Linked DNA regions of Homo sapiens: region 1 is linked to region 2. Evidence: fine-mapped expression QTL. A gene starts in region 2. The other region holds a variant in brackets. All regions are shown on one strand. Distances are between the middles of the regions.

Evidence for each region. PIP is the estimated chance that this variant, and not a neighbour inherited with it, causes the effect.
Region 1: its variant is the best candidate, but not a certain one, in a credible set for the expression of CNST in tibial nerve (GTEx, PIP 0.86).

The regions. Positions count from the first base shown.
Region 1 is chr1:246,619,400-246,624,776 of GRCh38, forward strand. CNST (consortin, connexin sorting protein) reads left to right here. Exons shown (of 11, transcript NM_152609.3): 3 at 2,030-2,235. Among named protein-coding and RNA genes, the nearest start is that of CNST, 56 kb to the left of the region's middle. The variant A/C (reference allele first, on the strand shown) is at 2,412.
Region 2 is chr1:246,564,226-246,569,598 of GRCh38, forward strand. CNST (consortin, connexin sorting protein) reads left to right here and starts at 2,231. Exons shown (of 11, transcript NM_152609.3): 1 at 2,231-2,438. TFB2M (transcription factor B2, mitochondrial) reads right to left here and starts at 2,036. Exons shown (of 8, transcript NM_022366.3): 1 at 1,601-2,036; 2 at 121-209. The coding sequence starts at 1,913. RefSeq lists enhancers at 1,726-2,005, 2,236-2,295, 2,336-2,835.

The DNA.
Region 1 (5,377 bases), 55 kb after region 2:
TCACTGTAGGTGATTTTTTAAAGAAGCACAGCACGTGGAATTGTAGTGTTGAAGACACCATGCTGGGTATCACTGGAATAACCCCTGTGCTGCCAGCGTTGATGTGAAATAGAAGATGACATCTTAAACCAATTACTGTACTGCAACCTAGCGTCATACGAGGCCATATACCAGGTTCAGAGGAAAGTAACTTGACTTCAAGCTCATGTTATAGGGAAAGATGTGGATTTTATTAGAGTAGAACATAAATAGGCTTAAACAGGAGGAAAATATTCTAGCCGTTAGGATCTGTAATTGCTCAGAAAGGCAGGAAGTATTTTACTTTGGGAGATGAAGAATGGACCAGTCTGGCCAGGGCAGTGGGTTTCACATTCAAATCCAAAGATATGAACTACAGGGCAGTAGAAGGCAGGGCTCTGGGCACACTCTACAGGGAGGACGGCTTCAGTCATGGTGCATACACACGATGGGCTCTGGGCACACTCTACAGGGAGGACGGCTTCAGTCGTGCATACACACGATGGGCTCTGGGAACACTACAGGGAGGACGGCTTCAGTCGTGCATACACACGATGGGCTCTGGGAACACTCTACAGGGAGGACGGCTTCAGTCGTGCATACACACGATGGGCTCTGGGCACACTCTACAGGGAGGACGGCTTCAGTCGTGCATACACACGATGGGCTCTGGGAACACTACAGGGAGGACGGCTTCATCGTGGTGCATACACACGATGGGCTCTGGGAACACTACAGGGAGGACGGCTTCATCGTGGTGCATACACACGATGGGCTCTGGGCACACTACAGGGAGGACGGCTTCATCGTGGTGCATACACACGATGGGCTCTGGGAACACTCTACAGGGAGGACGGCTTCAGTCGTGCATACACACGATGGGCTCTGGGAACACTACAGGGAGGACGGCTTCAGTCGTGCATACACACGATGGGCTCTGGGAACACTCTACAGGGAGGACGGCTTCAGTCGTGCATACACACGATGGGCTCTGGGCACACTCTACAGGGAGGACGGCTTCAGTCGTGCATACACACGATGGGCTCTGGGAACACTACAGGGAGGACGGCTTCATCGTGGTGCATACACACGATGGGCTCTGGGAACACTACAGGGAGGACGGCTTCATCGTGGTGCATACACACGATGGGCTCTGGGCACACTACAGGGAGGACGGCTTCAGTCGTGCATACACACGATGGGCTCTGGGAACACTCTACAGGGAGGACGGCTTCAGTCGTGCATACACACGATGGGCTCTGGGAACACTACAGGGAGGACGGCTTCAGTCGTGGTGCATACACACGATGGGCTCTGGGAACACTACAGGGAGGACAGCTTCAGTCATGCATACACACGATGGGCTCTGGGCACACTCTACAGGGAAGACGGCTTCAGTCGTGCATACACACGACGGGCTCTGGGCACACTCTACAGGGAGGATGGCTTCAGTCATGCGTACACACTATGGGCTCTGGGCACTACAGGGAGGATGGCTTCAGTCGTGCATACACACGGTATTACTGAAGAAGTTCCTTTCTGAGGCAGTCTAGCTAAAGGTATGCACATAGGCAGATAGTCTATTAAATTTGAACATGAATATTAAAACTGACACTGAGATTTCAGTGAAGGGTGAAGTTATAATTTATAACAGTGTTTAAAATTTGGTGTATTTCAGTAGCTGTTAGTTAAGCATTTATTTATTAGTGATTTTTGAGAAGTTTGTGTTACTTCTTTTTATTAGGAAAAACATTTGACTAGCCATTAGCTCTGGCATCTGAATTCCTGCTACTCTCCTAGCATCTAGAAGTATTTCTGATGTTATCAGACAGAGTTTAATCAGAAAGACTCAACTTCTTTAGTGGTTTCATATGATAAACACATTTACCTTCCTGTTCAGGTCTGTTTTAGTTTGGGCAAGCCAGGGCATCAAACTATATGTAATTGTTTTAATGTGTTACACCATCATGGGAATTGATCCTAACATAGGCATTTTCTTTACTTCTTAAAGGACTTTTTTCAGGAGATATTGCACCTTTAATGCAAGAAAAAGTACTAAGCGCAGTCACATATGCTGTTGATGATGAAGAAGCTGCTGAAGTAAATGCTAATGAGCAGCCAGAGGCGCCAAAGCTTGTTCTGCAGTCTCTGTTTTCACTTATACGAGGTGAAGTTGAGCAGTTGGATTCAAGAGCACTTCCCCTTTGCCTTCATCAGGTACTCTGGTAAACCCTTCACTTTCAGCCTCACGAAAATTCCCCTAGCAGTGTTTGGAATGATCTAAAATGCTGTCTTGGCTGGGCGCAGTGGCTCATGCCTGTAATCCCAGCATTTTGGGAGGCTGAGGTGGGTGGATGGCTTGAGCTCAGGAGTTCAAGACCAGCCTGGGCAAC[A/C]TGGCGAAACCCCATCTCTACAAAATATACAAAAATTAGCCGGGCATGGTGGTGCACACCTGTAGTCCCAGCTACTTGGGAGGCCAAGGTGGGACGATCACTCAAGCCTGGGAGGCAAAGGTTGCATTGAGCTGACATTGCACCACTGCACTCCAGCCTGGGAGACAGAGTGAGAGAACCTGTCTCTAAATACATAAATAAATATAAAAATAAAAAATAAAATGCAATCTCTGTAAAATTGACTGTGTCCCACTCATCACTGGTGAGCCCGGGGGAGGGTGACCCTCGTGGGATATTTGGCATATTACTAATTGATGGCCACATCTTGGCCTTGGCTAATCCATAGTTTAAACAATGGTTCACTTTTTAAATCAGTGATAAAGCTGTGTAAGAGTTTGATAAGCATCTACCAGGCACCAAAGACCCTGCTGGACATGGGTAAACAGAGATTACTTGGCAGAATATGCCCGTAAGAGAGCCCCTGCAGAACAGGAGCAACGGTTCTATCGATAAGTAAGTGTGGAATTTTGTGTTCAGTGTTAGAGTAAACATATGTTAAAGATTCAGCAGCACAAAATGAGTGATTCATTCTGCCCTGTGGACACTTGGGAACAGAAGGCGACTCTTGAGCTGGGTTTTCCAGGCTTATTAGGCGCTCAGTGGGTTAACAGAATGAGCTGGTCCAGGAAGAGATCAGCCTGTGAAAGCCGTGGCTGGGATATTATTGGAGATGAAGATGTTAAAAGAGGAGGTGAGATTGAATAGCTGGTGACATTGAGACTTTATTTTTAGGGACTGGGAATTTTTAATTCTAAGAGTGCCTGAATCACATTTGCATTTTAGAAGAAGAACTCTTTTGAGGATTGAGAGGGTGTAGATGTTAGAGGATGGAGAGGCTGGAGACTGGGGAGCCTTTAGGCCGGTGGTGAGGAAACTTTTTTTTTTACATAAGAGCTAATTCAGAAGAAATTAAGATATTTGAGCTGCATCTTATTTTTTATTGTATTGTATTGTATTTATTTATTTATTTAGAGACAGAGTCTCACTCTGTTGCCCAGGCTGGAGTGCAGCGGCATGATCTCAGCTCACTGTAATCTCCACCTCCCAGATTCAAGCCATTCTCCTGCCTTAGCCTCCTGAGTAGCTGGAATTACAGGCACACACCACCACGCCTGGCTAATTTTTGTATTTTAGTAGAGATGGGGTTTCACCATGTTGGCCAGGCTGGTTTCAAACTCCTGACCTCAAGTGATCCACCCGCCTCGGCCTTCCAAAGTGCTAGGATTAACAGGCGCGAGCCGCTGCACCCAGCCTGCATTTTATTTTTACATAAAATGAAATTAACTGGTACATGGGAATGGAGAAAGTGATTTACTTTTGTAATGAGAAGTGAATAATTTTTAATTTTTAACCCATTTAGAAAAAAAAATAGTGCAGCTGGCTGCAAGTGCCCAGCTTTACATAAACATGCTCTTTGAGGCTGAAGCAAATTTGACTAATTGTCAATGTGAAAATAAAATAGAAAAACTGTTCTTGGAGTTATTTCTAAACAGAATTTGTCTCTAATCCTAATGTAACAAAAACGGATATGATGTTACATTAGGATCAGAGACAAGAGTATTCTCAGGGCAAACAGAAAATGGGATAAAAAGTAAAGTAGGCAGGGCACAGTGGCTCATACCTATAATCCCAGCACTTTGGGAGGCCGAGGTGGGTGGATCATGTGAGGTCAGAAGTTCAAGACCAGCCTGGCCAACACAGTGAAACCTCATCTCTTCTAAAAATATACACACACAAAAAAATTAACCAGGCATGGTGGCACGCGCCTGTAGTCCCAGCTACTCGAGAGGCTGAGGCAGAAGAATTGCTTGAACCCAGGAGGCGGAGGTTGCAGTGGGCGGAGATCGCACCACTGCACTCCAGCCTGGGTGACAGAGTGAGACTCTGTCTCAAAAAAAAAGGGAAAATAGGGCCAGGCGCGGTAGCTCATACCTGTAATGCAGCACTCTGGGAGGTCGAGGCAGGCAGATTGCTTGAGCCCAGGAGTTCAAGTCTAGCCTAGGCAACATCATGAAACCTTGTCTCTACAAAAAAAAAAAAAATGTAGCCAGGCACGGTGGCGTGCGCCTGTAATCCCAGCTACTCAGGACGCTAAGGTGGGAGGATTGCATGAGCCCAGGAGTTTGAGGCTGCAATGAGCCGTGATTCCATCACTGCACTCCAGCCTGGGTAACAGAGGAAGACCCCATCTAAAAATAGACAAACAAAAAGTTCAATAGGTTTTGTCCCAATTCAGGAAAATGTATACTTTTACAAATTTGTATTATCTCCTTTACGAACTTGAAGAATGCCTTTGAGGAAATGTATACTCCTGGCCTCTAAGCTGTCACGAACTCACCATTGTTGAGTAGCACCAACATCAAGGCAGCTTTCTAATCACTCAGCTTTCACTGCATTTGAACAGTGGATTGCACGGCAATCTTTTCTCTCCTGGGAAAGAAGGTTAGAGAATACGGTGGTGGTTTAAAAGTATGGGCTTTGGCCCTACCACAAGCTAAGTGGCTTTTGGTTTCTCCTGTTGTAAAGTAATAGAGGATTAAATGGGATAATGCATGTAAAAGCACTTAACATATGTTTGACGTACAGTAAAAGCCAAAGAAATATTAAACATTTAAACTCTATTCCTACTGTCACTAATTCAGAGATTGCTCATTGGAAATCAAGTCTGGGGATCAGCAAAGAAATACTGATGCCATTAGAAAGCTGAGACGTCAGGGTGACAAGATTCGGTTGATGGCTGCCTCCTCAGCCCAAGAAGACAGAATATCCTGTCACCTCCCAAGGGACACACAAATCAGGGAGGGATGGAGATATATTTTATTCATTTTAGTAATTCCCAGCACATCACATGGTATATTTCACCTAGATTTGCCAGTTGTTGACATTTTTATCAAATTTTTGCTCTG
Region 2 (5,373 bases):
TCAGAGATGGCTCCCTAAAAGATATTCTATGTAAAACACTGTGTGCTTAATTCCATTTCCTTAAACCACTCACAGATAGTTGAACAAACAATAACATACGTTGAGAAACTAAAAATATACCTCCAAATGTGGAATAAAAGTTTTGTCACTTTCGAGCGCAACCACTTTGGCACCAGCTTCAAGTAATGCCTGAGTCAGGATTCCAGGACCTGGCACATTAACAGAACGAAAAGTTTATTTGTACAAGAAACATAATCTCTTTCAATACCAAACTTTCATTAGATGTTTCACACGTTATTACCTGGTTTTTAAATCTGACAGCATCCGCAAAGTAGATGTCACTCTCCTTTTTACATATAAGGAAACAGGAGATTATATATACTTATTTGACTCCAGCGTCAAAAGTGATGCAGCTTGGCTTTGAAATCATTGTCAGCGACTGCAAAACCTGCACTCTTTTTTTTTTTTTTTTGAGACGAAGTCTCACTCTGTCACCCAGGCTGGAGTGCAGTGGGGCAATCTCGGCTCACTGCAACCTCTGCCTCTTGGGTTCAAGCGATTCTCCTGCCTCAGCCTCCCGAGTAGCTGGGATTACAGGCGCCCGCCACCACGCCCGGCTAATTTTTGTATTTTAAGCAGAGACGGAGTTTCACCATGTTGGCCAGGCTGGTCTGGAACTCCTGACCTCAAGGGAACCACTCGCCTCGGCCTCTGAAAGTGCTGGATTACAGGCGTGAGCCACCGCACCAGGTCAAAACTTGCACTCTTCATCACCATGATTCACTACCTCTTAGAAGAAAAAAGTCACAGCAAAATAGATTGCCTCTAGCCTATCACTTCCTCACGGACTACACGGATGCTTTAACCATCAAAGAGATTGTCAAGCCTAAACAGAACTGACTCCCTGTGATATGAAATGGTGCTTTAAAAAACTATCATTCAAAAAGCCTATAAATCTTGTGTTCTTAGCATCCTGCTATGGTCTATAGGGAATGCACGGAAGAATAAGATAACATCATTTTTTCAGCTGGCAGAGGCTTGCAACTCTTTTGGGGAGATAAGATCTAAGAGCATGTTTTATCAAAATATTGTGTAAAGTGCAAGCTGCTACAGAAATACTTTGTGGTGTCATTAACGATACAGACTCTACGCTTATGTAGTGGGCAATCTCTCCAACTAAGGAGCTTCAAACAAAGACCCGTATCTGGACGGGCGCAGTGGCTCACGCCTCTAATCCCAGCATTTTGGGAGACCTAGGGGGGAGGATCACGAGGTCAAGAGATCGAGACCATCCTGGCCAACACGGCGAAATCCCGTCTCTAGTAAAAATAAGAAAATTAGCTGGGCGTGGTGGCGCGCGCCTGTAGTTCTTGCTACTCGGGAGGCTGAGGCAGGAGAATCGCCTGAACCCGGTACGCGGAGGTTGCAGGGAGCCGAGATCGCCCCACTGCACTCCAGCCTGGCAACACAGCGAGACTCCGTCTCAAAGCAAAAGAACAACAAAAAAGACCCCCCAGTATCTAAAATAGCACCCCGAGGAGGGTCAATACGTTTGAATAAATGATGAACATCCAAGAAAATGCAATTCAGCTGGACTCACCTGGATTGCACTCCAGCAGTAGGTGTGGAGGTCTACTTGGTTTTCCCAAATAGATTTGCGCCAGGGTCTCAGCCAATCTCCGATCGGTTACGTAACGCTTAAAGTCTAAGCTGGCCTTAGACGCCTTCCTTGGCGGATTCCTGAAATCCGGTTCGGGCCACAGCTGCGGAGAGGAGTCAGAGAGCCCACAGTGGTTCCTCGCCGGCAAATGCTTTCGCGTCGCCGCTTCAGACCCTAAAATGCAAAAGCGACCAGCGCCCGCCAAGGCGGAGAGCCTCAGCCGCCGAGGAAGCCCGACCACTGGGATCCACATGTCCTTGTCTCTCAGGCCCGCTCCAAGAATCACCTAGTGCAGCTACTACAGTGAACCCCACGCAGGGTATCCCACGTGGAACATTTTCTGGCGTCCGGGCCAGGTCAAGCGGAAGTAAACACTAGAGCCTGCGCATGCGAACAGCGGAGCCTTCCTGCTTTTCTCCCTCACTTCCGCTTCCGCCTCGGCTCAGCCGCCCGAGGATTGTGAGTGGACCGTTGAGGAGAGCGACCGACCATCCGGCTGGTGTCCGGACTCGTACTCTATGGTTGTCCGCGCTCTGCGCTTCCTCTCTAGCCGCCAGTGCTCTATGCTCCGCGGTCGCGGGCCGCCAGCCTCCAGCCGGCCAGCCGCGAGGGGTGCGCAGAGGGAGGCGGGGCGGAAAGGCGAGAGGTGTCTCCTCCACCGGAGCCAGGGGAGACCCGAGCAAGCTCCGTGACAGCACGTCGGCCGCCATGTCGCCGAGTGGGGCTGGAAACAGACCCGGCGCCCAGCGGTAGCCCTCCTTGCGCCTCCGATTCCCAGGTGAGGAGAGGAGGAGCGGGATGCAGGGGACCCGCCGGCTCGCGGCCGGGATGGAAAGCCTTTCGGAAGCCTCTCGCTCCTCCCCCTGCGCTGTCCTCCTCCAGCCGCGCAGCCTCTGCCCTCCGGGTGAGGTGTAGCCCGGTCCCCTTACCTCCTCCGCCTCTCAGGTCGCCTGTTTTCCTCTCCTTTCTCAGCTACTGTGGGTCTCCTATTGCTGCGCGTCGCGCCAATTTCTCCCTCCCTAGGGGACTAGCGCCAGAAGTCGTTCCTCACCCGGCTCCTGGAGGAGCCTGCGGCTTCCACGGTCTCCGTTCCTTTCTGTTGTGTGGCCCACAGCCCGCTCTCCCCACCCTCGTGGATGGTTTTCATTTCCCCCCCACACCTGGTCCCCCCCATCACTACCACTTTGGTTGTCAAGAACCGCGTGGTGTCTCCCTTCCATTCCTCTCTCTGGGCCAATATTTTCCTTAATTTTTTCAGTTTGTGTGTTTAAAAGACTTAAAGTTAAGATTAAAAATGAAGATGTAAAAGCTTACAATTCCTTTCTAAGCTTAAAAAGATTAAGACTTTAGGATGCTTACTGTATTCCTTATGTAAACTTAGTCAAACACATCGTACTGTGGAATGCGATTTAAAAGACCCAATTTTGAAGACTAAAAATAGGATGCTGTAATGGAAATTTTGGCAGTCTTTTTTTTTTTACCTATTGGGCAATGTTAGAAGACACGGTTCTTTGAGAGTGTTTTCCGTGTTTCAGGATCAAACTTAGAGCTTTTACCCATTATCCTTACCACCAAGGCAAGAAACGGCAGCCAATCAACTCCGTGTCTTAGAATACGTACAATCCTTTCTGCTTACTCTACTGAGAGTGTAATTGAGTTTGGCATTTAAATGCACGAGGAAAAGGTTCCTAAGGAATGTATCACCCAGCAAATAGTCTGAAGATTATACTCATCTGATGAAGCTCAAGCGGATAAAGAATTGACAACTAAATATGACCTTTTGTGTATTATAAATTTGTTAGGACATCATAGAAAATATCTCATCAACTGTTGTGCAAACTGTGGGGACTCACTCATTGGTCTTAATTTGCTTAAATTCTTTTTTCGTACAGTTTTCTCACTGACAATTTTCTAGAGGTGACTTTGCATCCTCTGAACCTCTCTCCATTACTGAGCTGCCTCCCCCTCTCCCCTTAAAAAACATTTTCATAGATTCAGAAATACACTTTTTTCCCCCTCCAGGACCTGGAGTCCTAAATATTTTTAAATCAGATAAAATAGAATTATGTCTTCATGGTTCACTCATAGAAATGTGTCGTTGAATTTCTGACTTTTTAAAAAAAACACTGTGGTGGCTGGGTATGGTAGTTCATGCCTGTAATCCCAGCACTTTGGGAGGCCAAGGTGGGAGGATCACTTGCTGCCGGGAGTTCGAAGCCAGACTGGGCAACATAGACTCTGTCTCCTTAAAAAAAAAGAAAGAAAGAAAAAGAGAAAAAGAAAAATAAACACATTGTGGTTAAAAACAAAACAGTTATTTTAAAATGCACTGTCTTATTTCATAATGTTTGTGGACCAAAGTTAGCCTACTGAGTCCTAGAAAAACTGATGTCATTTTTTATTTTGCTTTTGAGTGTTATTATTTTCTCTTGGTTTTGGGAAAGAGAATTACATTATAATATTCCCTTTTTACAGTGTTGATGGTTCACTTGTTTGTAATTGAAGGTACTTGAATAATAAGAGATTTTTGTACATCTTATTTTTTTTCTGAGGTCCCAGGTGCTGAGAATGTTGATTTCACCTTAAAGATGAACTTTATGATCAGGATTTAGACATACTTTATTAGAAAAACTTGATTAGTGTGCAGTATTTCCCATCTTTTTTCTTAAGAAGTGTGGTTTTCTATCCTATGCTGTTTTTGCCTTTTTGAAGTAATTTTGAGATGGAGTCTACTCTGTCGCCTAGGCTGGTGCCATCTCGGTTCACTGCAACCTCCGCTTTTCGGGTTCAAGCAGTTTCTCCTGCTTCAGCCTCCCGAGTAGCTGGGATTACAGGCTCCTGCTACTATGTCCAGCTAATTTTTGTATTTTTAGTAGAGACGGAGTTTCGCCATGTTGGCCAGGGTGGTCTTGACCTCAGGTGATCCTCCGACCTCCACCTCTCAAAGTGCTGGGATTACAGGCGTGAGCCACCACGCCTTTAAAATACTTTTTTTCTTGCTTTTTACATTTAAATATATTTATTTATTTGTGAAGGCGGAGTTTTGCTATGTTGCCCAGGCTGGTCTCAAATTCCTGGCCTCATGCAATCCTCCCACCTCAGCCTCCCAAAACACTGGTATTACAGGCATGAGCCACCACACCCAGCCTCTTTTGGCTTTTAAATGACAACTGTAATTGGGAAATGCCAAGTGATAGTCCTTGCTTGCTGTTAGAATTAAGGCTGTAGGTCTGTAGCAGCAGTCTTCAATAGAAATACAATGCAAGCCATATAAGTAATTTAAAATTTTCTAGTAGTGGTATTAAGAAAGTAAAAAGAAACAGGTAAAATTTTAGTAGTATATTTTATTTAATCTTATATATGTTATTTTAACATGAAATCAATTTTTAAAATGAGATATTTTACATTATTTGATACTAAATCTATAAAATCTGGTATTTTATACTTACAGCACATCTCAGTTTGGAGAAGCCACATTTCAAGTGCTCAACAGTCACATGTAGCTAAATGTTACCTTACTGAGCAGCACAAATGATAGGATGGTCACATGATTTTTAAGCTGTCTTCCTACACTGAGAGTCTGATTCTGTGGGGTAAATTAAAAACTCCTCTTCCTGAAGTACTGCGGTATTTAATTTGAGAAGTTTCTATGCAGGAAGAGAGTTCTAAGTCTCTTCCTTTTAGTGTTTTTGTTTTGTTTTGTTTGTTTTGAG